2 separate regions of the Homo sapiens genome follow, and region 1 is linked to region 2. Evidence: fine-mapped expression QTL. A gene starts in region 2. The other region holds a variant in brackets. All regions are shown on one strand. Distances are from middle to middle.

Region 1 (5,386 bases), 230 kb before region 2:
CTATTGTCTAACTTTCAAACAGTTGAAGGTTTTTTAGTAACCTTTTATTTGTTGATTTCGAATGAATTCTGTTGTGCAGAGAACATATTCTGAAAGATTTTGAGCTTTTGAAATTTGTTGATGCTTTATGATGCAGTATATGGTTAATTTCAACATATATTTAATATGCATTTGGAAATAATGTGTATTCTGTCATTGTTGATTGCATGATTTATATATGTCAGTTAAGTCTAGTGTTTTAATTGCCTTGTTCATGTCCTCTGTATTCTTACTTGTTTTTTGTATACTCTTTAGTATTGAGAGAGATGTGTTAAAGTCTACCTCTATGACTGTAGATTTGTCTGTTTCTCCTTTTAGTTTTGTGATTTTTACTATAAATATTTTGTTTTGTTACTAGTTTTATGGAGATTTAGAATTGTGGTCTCTTCCTAGTAGTTTGATTCATTGTCATCATGAAATGTCCCTCATTATCTCTAATAATGCTAGTGCCTTAAAGTCTGTTTTATCTGCTACTAATACAGTTATAATAGCTTTCTTTTAGCTAATGTTAATATGATGTCTCTTTTTCCATCTTTTACTTTTACTTTTGCTCTTTCTGGGCTCTTATATTTAGAGTGTCCTTGTAGGTAAGATAGGATTGAATTTTGCATTTTATGTAGTCTGATAATCTTAGTCTTTTAATTATTTAGCCCATTTTAATTAACGTTATTACTATTATATTTGGATTTATAGCTATCTTACTGTTCATTGTATGTTTGCTTTTTTCTCTTTTCTTGCCTTCTTAAATATTAATATTTTTATAGTTCCATTTATTCCATGATTCCAGTTTTTTACTTTGTGAACTTGTGAGTCATATATTCCATTTCTTTATATATGTTTATATATATTTCTATTCTTTTGGCAGTTACCTTTGGTTTATTACAGCTTAATGCAAATTGTAACTTTTACTACTTCTCCAATAGTGTTAGAACCATTTATTCCCCCACATCCTAAAACATACTTATATATATATGTGTATATATATATATATATTAAATCTTACATTATTTTATTACCATATTTTTTTACAGTAGGTATTTAGGAAATACACATTTATATTTATCCACATATTTACCCTTTCCATTTTACCTTCCTCAGTTTTGGAAAAATTTTGGTTATTATCTTCTTTTTACTTTTTATTTTTATTTTTTAGAGGTTGGGTCTTGCTGTGTTGCCCAGGCTGGAGTGCAGTAGTGCGATCATAGCTCACTGCAACCCTGAACTCCTGGGTTCCAGTGATCCTCAGCCTCCTGAGTAGCTAGGACTGCAGACATGCACCACCACACCCAGCTAATTTTTTTTTTAATTTGTAGATATAGGATCTGGCTATGTTGCCCAGGGTGGTCTCAAACTGCTGGCCTCAGGCATTCCTCCTGCCTGGGCCTCCAAAAGTGTTGGAATGACAGGCATGAGCCACCACGTGTGTCTCCATTATCTTTTTACACTCCAATTACATTATGTTAAACTTTACCAGGCCTCACTTGATTCATATTCTTTCCCATGGTTTCTATTCTTCTTTCTCTTTATGCTTCAGCTTGTATGTTTTCTATTGACTCCTTTTCTAGTTCATTAATTATGTCTTATGCTTTGTCTATTCTACTGTTTAATCCATTGAATGAGTTTTTAATTTCAGGTAGTTCCAGAATTTTTATTTGATTTTTTAAAATAGACTCTAACCCTCTGATTTTAAAAACCTGTCTTTTTACCTATGTACTTCATTTCTTCTCATCTCTTGAATGTATTACTCACATTTATCTTAAAGTTCTTATTAATTTAGAATTTTGAATTATCTTTATATCTACTTTTATGGTCTGCTTTTTCTCTCTTACTCCTTTCTTTGTCATGTATGTTCTATCTTTTGTCACATCTAGAATGTTATTGAATGCCACACAATGTTTATTAAGTTATTTCTTTAATACTTTTGTTGTTCTTTTAGTACTATCATGTTTACCCTTTTGTCAACCATTTTGTGTCAAAGTATTCATAAGAACATAGTATACAGTAGAAATAGACCACAGTGGAGTAAACAGATGGAATGCACCACTTAATTTTAGAAAGATATCGCCAACAGTTTACTAGTACCCATGGCCAATAGTGTAGGTTAATGACCACTTTGCTTTACTAGTGTTCATCTTCCTCCATAAGATTGAGTAGCAGCTGATTGCTTTCATCCAATCAGGGACTGTGCTGAATCCAGACTAGGTTTTAACCATGGTTAGTCTTGAACAACCTACAGTTTGCTCCTGGCCTTTCAGGGTTTTCAACTTGGATTTGGTATATTTTCTAGCACCCTTCCTCCAGCAAGCCAAAACAACAAAATGCACTGATTTGGGGGCGACAGTAAACAATCACAGTAACTACTGTTTACCAAAAGCTGGCCGACAGCTGTGAATGTGCACTAAATGAAAGAGCTCTTCTTCCCTGCCTTCCTCTTTTACTCTGACACTAGATTGCATATTCAAAAACAAATCCTCCAAAATACATATTGTTTTGAAAATATTTTATGAAAGAAAGAAAGTGGATATGATGCCCACATTTTGTTGTTTTAGCTAAGTAAAATGATTTATTGTCTGTTATCTCCAGTGATGGTGATTGTCTTTAGAAGAGGTTAGGAAAACAATATCCTCCAAAGATTCATATTTAACATTAGATTTTGTGATTTTTAAATCTTAGTATTTACAGAACCAAATCTTCTGTTATATTTCAGGTCTAATCTCAAAATTAATATTAATAACAATTTAAAATTTTCATAAATCAATCACAAAACATCTGTATCTTAACATGATAAGAAAATATATTTAATTTATAC[G/A]TGGACGATATGCTTTTTGCAGGAAAAATATTAGATTCAGCCTTCATCACTAATAATGGAAATTTTAATTATAATAATTTTTATTTAAATTAGATTTATTTTATAGTTAAGGCTAACATTGCCAGAATTCAAACCCAAATATATCTGGTTTCAAAACATATATATATATTTTTAAAACTGTGCTGTCTTGATTGTCTGTGATACAAGTCAGCTGATGTGTGTGTTTGCATAGACAGAAACTGGGACCTTTCATTTTCGTAGCATTCTAGTGTTGATAAACCATGAAGACTATATGTTATGGTTTTTTTCTGTTCTTCACGTTGTTCTATTGCTGCTTTTAATGTCTAGCTTACTAGGAAGCTCACTATGTTAAAGTATTCTATTTGAATATTTTCATTTGTTCTTGGATAAAGAATAATTGGATTCCCAAGGGATATGTGATCCAAGTATATAAAGTGTTCTTTATTAAAATAATTTTAATTGGGAGTTCTTTCATATGAGATTAAACCAATGTATTTTAAGATAGGAAGTTTTCTTGGTTTGATGGCTTACTAATTTTAGATGAATCTTTTTGGAAAGTTTTGCCTTATTTATTTATTTATTTAACATATATATTTTATTATACTTGAAGTTCTAGGGTACATGTGCATGAAGCTGGAAACCATCATTCTCAGCAAACTGTCTTTTTTATTTTAAGAGTGTGCTTCTAACGTTATTTTTTATGTTTGGCAATCTGCTGTCATCAGTCTGCTTATATAGCAATACAAGATGTTAATAATATAGTATTTCCATTCTTAAGTGTCTAGATTAACAATTCTCTTTTAAAATAAATTTTGACAGTACAGATTGAGAAAATATTTTAAATACACATCTGTCTCTTTATTTAATTTTTAAAATTTTCCTTTTTAGAGACAGGGTCTTGCTCTGTTACACAGGCTGGAGTGTAGACGCATGACCATAGCCCACTGTAACCTTGAATTCCTGGGCTCAAGTTGTCCTCTTGCCTCAGCCTTCTGAGTTGCTTAAAATAACAGCCTCTTTCCACCATGCCTGACTAATTTTTACATTTCCTTATAGAGATGGGCTCTTGCTTTGTTGCTCAAACTCCTGACCTCAAGCCATCCTGTGGCTTCAGCTTTGCAAAGTGTTGGGATTACAGGTGTGAGCCACCACACCTGGCCCTGCTTTCTTCCTTTATTTTTAAGTTGATTTTTACATTGCGTAAAATTTTTTGAGATAATAAAATATCACGAAGAGAGTTTCATGTTTCAGGGTACAAATTTCAGGGAAGATGGTTGGGACTTTTTTTGGTTCCAATAAAAGTTTATTTACAAAAACATTTAACTAGTTGTATTAGGCCTGTGGACAACAGTCTGTAGACCCCTGCTTAAAGGATATGTGAAAGGTATTTTTTCTCATTATAAAATATTTTAAATAGATTAAAATTATATTAGAAAAGAAAGAGGAAAATACACATGATGTTTGAGAATTCTTTTTTGGGTGTGTGGGTGCGGGGCAGGGAGTCTGGCTCTGTTGCCAGGCTGGAGTGCAGTGGCATGATCTGGGCTTACTGCAACTTCTGCCTCCCAGGTTCAAGCAATTTTCCTGCCTCAGCCTCCTGAGTAGCTGGGACTGCAGGTGCATGCCGCCATGCTCAGCTGATTTTTTTTTTTTGTATTTTAGTAGAGACAGGGTTTCACCATATTGCCCAGGCTAGTCTCGAACTCCTGAGCTCAGGCAATCTGCCTGCCTCAGCCTCCCAAAGTGCTAGGATTACAGGCGTGAGCCACCACGCCCGGCCAAGAATTCGCAAGTTGCATAATATTTGAAGAAAGAAGGGAAATTACTTTTTTTGTTTGTTTCCGCTCTTTCACCCAGGCTGGAGTGCACTGGCACCATCTCGGCTCACTGCAACCTGTTCCTCCCAGGTTCAAGTGATTCGCCTGCCTCAGCCTCCTGAGTAGCTGGGACTACAAGTGTGTGCCACCATACCTGGATAATTTTTATATTTTTAGTAGAGATGGAGTTTCACCATGTTGGCCAGGCTGGTCTCAAACTCCTGACCTCAGGTGATCCACCCGCCTTGGCCTCCCAAAGTGTTGGGATTACAGGCGTGAGCCACCGTGCCCAGACCTGCAAATTGTTGATTCTGAAAAATTCTCTGTGTTTCTGATGTAAAATATAAGAGAGAAAATAGGCCTTCCAGTGAACAGATATCTCTGGGTATTGTGCTTATTATCACCTATAGTCACTGCTTATATTATGTTTGGTGTGGATTGTGTCATGTCTCTTGGAAGCCATCTCCTTGTTGATCATTGATGCTGACTGTTATTTTAATGGCAGAGGATAATTACCTCACCCCTGTGTTAGAGACTACTAACAGCAATGACATATAATAAGGAATATTGTAAATTTGGTTTGAAATAGTGGAGAGTTCTCTGTCTCATATTTTGGATACTTACGTTCTATTAAAAACATCACTCTTATTAATGACTTTAACCTTTGTGAGCCCTTTTAAGTTTTGAAATGTGATGATTC
Region 2 (5,386 bases):
AAAATTTATATTTGGGTATGTGTGAGGTAATCTGAAAGATCAGATTAGGTCTCTGATAATCACAAAAAGTTGTGGAGTAGACTGAACAATATTATCTTCATTTATAGATAAGTAAATTCTAGCATAGAAAGGTTAACTTTTTTTTTTTTTTTTTTTTTGAGAGGGAGTCTCGCTCTGTTGCCCACGCTGGAGTGCAGTGGCGCAATTTCCGCTCACTGCAACCTCCGCCTTCTGGGTTCAAGTGATTCTCCTGCCTCAGCCTCCTGAGTAGCTGGGGTTACAGGCGGGGACCACCATGCCCAGCTAATTTTTGTATTGTTAGTACAGCCAGAGTTTCACCATGTTGGCCAGGCTGGTCTCCAACTTCTGACCTCGTGATCCGCCACCTCGGCCTCCCAAAGTGCTGGGATTATAGGCTTGAGCCACCGTGCCCAGCCAGAAAGGTTAACATTTGCCCATGGTCACAAAACTAGTTAGGGACAGGGCCAGCAATGAATAAAATTCATTTCTCTTGATTCACAGCCACATATTCATTTAATTAGATCATGATTCTGCTCAATGTTCTCCAATTTTGCCTAATATAACTCTTGAACAAAGTTTCTCACCATAAATAACCCTGCCCCCATTCACTTCTTCTTAAATGTCTACCCTTCCTCTGAAGAAATGTTTTCAAGCATATTTTCAAGATCTACTTTAAGACAAACCCTACCCTCTTACCAACAGACCTGATTACTGGACAATAAAAAGGAGGTTTCTATCCTTACTGACTACAGCCATATCCTTTCTGTGGCTACTAACAGATTTAGGTTCCAGTAATATTTTAAAAACTAACCTTGGATAATAGATTAGAAAATTACTAACTATTGCATAAAGCGGACTTCCTGCTTATTTATTGCTTGGAATTACCATCTTCAGTGCAGTCGAGGGTGAGTCTAACCGCATAGGGTGCAACTATGTTACTGTCCTTCCTCTTCACGGCAAATAAGACACACAATTCATCTTTCACAAGACCATAAAATGGGACTTCCTTTTTTAAAAAAAAGTTCCTCAATAGAAGCATGCTTAAAAATCTTTCCCACATCCTCTAAACCTTCCAAAGATCCAGTCTTCCCTTCATTATACTTTCCTACAATAACAAATTTTTTTGAAAGAGTACACTCAACCTGTCTGAACTTCAAGATTATAATTTTTATCTAGTACTGTACTTATCTCTGCCACCTACTCAAATTACCCTTAAGGAAACCAAGGATACCTGAAACGCCAAAATCAAATACTTATTTTTCAAGTCTTAACCTTATCTGTCCTGGGGATGAAGGAACTGGTGCAGTGTTCACTAGAATGATAGTAATTATGGAGCTCTTAAGGAGCTCTACTCTGTGCCAGGCACTGTACTAAGCATTCAAAAATGTTCATTTAATCTTCACAACATCCCTGAGAAGTACTACCCCCTTTTAATAGATTAAAATTGGGGCTCAAAATTACCCAGAGGCCAAGTAGTTAGTGAAGCCCATATGATTCCAATGTTTGCAGTCTCTTCCCAATTCTGTGGCATTTTCTCCATCTCTTTCACTATTTCATCAACGACGCTTATAATCAATTCTCTTATTTCACATGCTCTCCTTGGCAATTTCATTTCCTCCCAAAGCTTTAACTACATTCTATATTAGTGCTTCCCAACTTTTTAAATCTTTCTGTAAATATAAACATTTTGTGCTCTCTGTAGCTTATATTTTGAAAATAAGTTTTTTCCCATAGAAATTACAATATTGAATATGTTTGTTCAAACTACACTTCCTTCCACCACTCAAGATCTGTTAACCTCTAATGAATTGCCCCATGATTGACATCAATAGACCTTGATGCAGAAATATTTTATTGGAGAGATATCAAATCAATCTCTATTTCCTCTTCCCATGTCCACTTCTGCTAGACATTTCTCTCGAGTCATAAACATCTTTAACTGTCTAATAAGCATAGTTCCATGACTGTCGCCCCAGGCCCTTCAACATAAACCTGTCTAAAACCAAACTCTCATTTCCCTTAGCAAACCTGTTCTCTGCGTTCTCCAGCTAATCTTGTCACAACCCACCCTTGTCTATTCTTTAAGGTACCTACCTGCAAAACCGTAACGCTGATACTCTGACTTCCTTGAGCTACCAGGTAAAAAAATCAACCACTACAGGAGTGCCTATTATGGCCTGGAGTAGAGGAATGCAAAATAGTTCAAAATATCCTCTTCCTCCTGAAGAAACAGATTTTTTTTTTTTTTTGGAGAGGCATGTTCCAACTTATAAAATTAAAATATATTCACAAGCATTTTAATTTGATCTTTAATCTCTGTTTTACAGGAAAAAAAAATGAGATGTTACTTTCCACTCCTTCATTGTTGAAATAAACTTACACTCAACTAAAAGAAAACAGGTCTGAATACAATAAAAGTCAACAGGACAGCGCAAATAGCCAACTACCCAAGGACACAAAGTGACCTGGAGGCGTTCTGCGGTGGCGCTGCCGTCAAGGCCGGGGCCGCCTGGCCAGACCCTCCCTCAGACGCCCCCCGGGGCCGCCCTCACTCCCGCACGTCCCTCTGCAGCTGTCCTCAGCCGGTGGGGTCGGCAGTGACCGCGGGAAAACCCCGCTTGCTGTGCGACCCAGGGCGCGCTGAGCAGGGGCTGCGGCTGCCGCCGCTGTCCGGCTCCGGTTCCGGCCCCGGCCCCGGGCCCGGCCAGAGCTGAGTCCGGACTCAGCCAAAGCCCCTCGCCTTCAGCTTCCCAGACGTCCGACCAGTGGAAAATTAGCATACCTGGGGCAGAAGGCAGCTGCAGGGCCGGCAGTCCTGGCAAACCTAGAAGGCGGGAATAACCCTGGTGACGGGCGGGGCCGGGCTCCGGCGCTAACTGCATCCACTAGGTTTGGTCAACACAGAGCCGCGCCAACTCTCTGAGGCTGCGCCAAGACCTGAAGCGGCGGACCGAGAGCCCGGGTCTGAGACTGAGAGAGCAACGGAATGGAGGCGGGGTAGAGGCGGAAACACAACCTGCAGGGCCAGAGCGAGGCGCGAGAAGGACGGCGGCGTGAGGGGGCGGGGCGCGCAGCGCGAGAAGGCAGGCACGAGGGGCGAGCGCGAGGCGGGGCACGGCGCGTGGCGTGAGACGGGGCGGGGCGCGCGTATCGGCGCCGCGGCCGCGTGACGCGTTTTCAAATCTTCAACCGCCGCAGCCCACTCGTTTGTGCTTTGCGCCTTCCTCCTCCGCGCCTTGGAGCCGGATCCGGCCCCGGAAACCCGACCTGCAGACGCGGTACCTCTACTGCGTAGAGGCCGTAGCTGGCGGAAGGAGAGAGGCGGCCGTCCTGTCAACAGGCCGGGGGAAGCCGTGCTTTCGCGGCTGCCCGGTGCGACACTTTCTCCGGACCCAGCATGTAGGTGCCGGGCGACTGCCATGAACTCCGGAGCCATGAGGATCCACAGTAAAGGACATTTCCAGGGTAAGAAGCCCCTCCTCCGCCTGCAGTCCCTTTAATCCTTTCCTCCCCTCGTGGTTCCACCATTGATTCTTCAGACTTCTCCCGCCGGGTCCTCAGCTTCTTTTCTTCTGACCGGCCTCTGGGGTCTGAAGGAAGGAGCCCCCGTTCAGTGTTTTGCCTAAGAAGGAACGGATCCTGACCCGGCCCCTCGAGCGCTCTGCCGTTTACAGCGGCGGTCCCAGATTGATTCCCGGTCGTGCCTTCGGTTGAAAACTAGCAAACAATGTGCAGATCCGGGACCTCGCCGGGACTGCGGCGCTGTCTGCTCCCGGGCTCTCGCATATGCTAAGCCTCCGCCCGGGCCCTTGGAGGCGACGGACTGCATCCTCAATTTAAAGTCAGACGCGCTCGTGGCTTTTCGCTTCAGGATTAGATTGAGTGATTGTGGGTGGATTTTTGGTCTTACCCTTGAAAGTTTATTTTCCTTTCCTCATAAGTTGGGGGAAAGCATTGTATTTCAAACACCCCATTGCTGGTTTCAACATTACAAACAGGGAAACAAAAGCAAATTTCCATTTTCAGTCACTTTATTTGGTGAAACATTCCAGCACCTAAGTTTTTTGTACAGGTGTTTGTGTGTGTGTAGTAACTACCAATTTAAGAACAGATTGCGTTTGAAAAATTAATTTTTAAAGCAGTTGCTTGGATCTCAGATCTGTTTCTAATGAAAATAATGAAAGGTTTAGTTCTTCGTAATGGACCGTTAAGTTCTTAATACGTAGACAAATTGTATGTGAAATGGACCGTTTAGTTGTTAATATGCAGACAAACTTTATATGAAACTAAAACTTGAGCAGTCTGAAACCCTTGAGGACTAGGTTATTCTGCGTAACAGAGGATTCTTTCATCGCTAAATGAAGTTTAAACACCAGTTTTGAATGTTCAGCAGAATGGCAGATGCTCAATAAATAGTTGAGTATTAAATATCCCCATGGAGTTTACATCCTAAAAAAAGAAAATCTTTCAAAAGAGTTTTATATAGTTCCGTGCCTCAGGAATAAACACACGAATATTTCTTGCTGAGTCAACTATTATTTTACAATATGCGGTCTGTGAAAGTATATAGGGCATTTTGCCTCTATCCTAAGTAGTACTACAAAGAAATACATTTCAATGCTAATAACTTAAACTGGTAGGGTTGTAAGGATTTTTATTCTGTAATATTGTATAATGAAATATTTTAAAAATAGTAAAAGTGTCTGTGTAAAACATCTGATTCTAAACATCTTTAATAGGTGGAATCCAAGTCAAAAATGAAAAAAACAGACCATCTCTGAAATCTCTGAAAACTGATAACAGGCCAGAAAAATCCAAATGTAAGCCACTTTGGGGAAAAGTATTTTACCTTGACTTACCTTCTGTCACCATATCTGAAAAACTTCAAAAGGACATTAAGGATCTGGGAGGGGTAAGTGAAAACCGTACACTGGCATAGAAGGAAAAATTTGTAACTAGTACTTTCTACTGTGTAATCATTTAAATTTTTCATTTTGGAAAACGCTTCTATTAGCACCAAGCTTAACATTTTTATCAGCTGTTTATCGTTAACAAAAAACCATTTGTTTTAACCTTTTGTGGACTGACAGACCTTTCAGGTTTCTCTGATTAGCAGTCTAGTGTAAAGTTCTTAGAGTGTAAGACTCCCCTGTCCTAGTGGAACTGCTCATTGACTGCTTACTGTAATGTTGGAATGTCCTCCAGATAACAGCAATTTCTTGATTATGAATCTTGGGGAGCTACATAAGTTTGTCTGGACTAGTGTAACAGTTAAGAATGTTACTACAGAACAGCCATGCAAACCACAGTTAAAATTGTTCCTGAGTGATACAGATGTTGTTTCAACAGAATGAATGTTATTAAA

Evidence for each region. PIP is the estimated chance that this variant, and not a neighbour inherited with it, causes the effect.
Region 1: its variant is fine-mapped to the expression of SLC25A40 in whole blood (TOPMed, PIP above 0.99).

What each region holds. Positions count from the first base shown.
Region 1 is chr7:87,639,178-87,644,563 of GRCh38, forward strand. All of the region lies in intron 1 of RUNDC3B (RUN domain containing 3B), which reads left to right. It also overlaps a transcript of ABCB1 not described here. Among named protein-coding and RNA genes, the nearest start is that of RUNDC3B, 13 kb to the left of the region's middle. The variant G/A (reference allele first, on the strand shown) is at 2,849.
Region 2 is chr7:87,873,293-87,878,678 of GRCh38, forward strand. It overlaps SLC25A40 (solute carrier family 25 member 40), which reads right to left and starts at 3,068. Exons shown (of 12, transcript NM_018843.4): 1 at 2,804-3,068. DBF4 (DBF4-CDC7 kinase regulatory subunit) reads left to right here and starts at 3,201. Exons shown (of 12, transcript NM_006716.4): 1 at 3,201-3,486; 2 at 4,761-4,933. The coding sequence starts at 3,441. RefSeq lists silencers at 2,461-2,910, 3,041-3,300 and enhancers at 2,664-3,173, 3,361-3,480.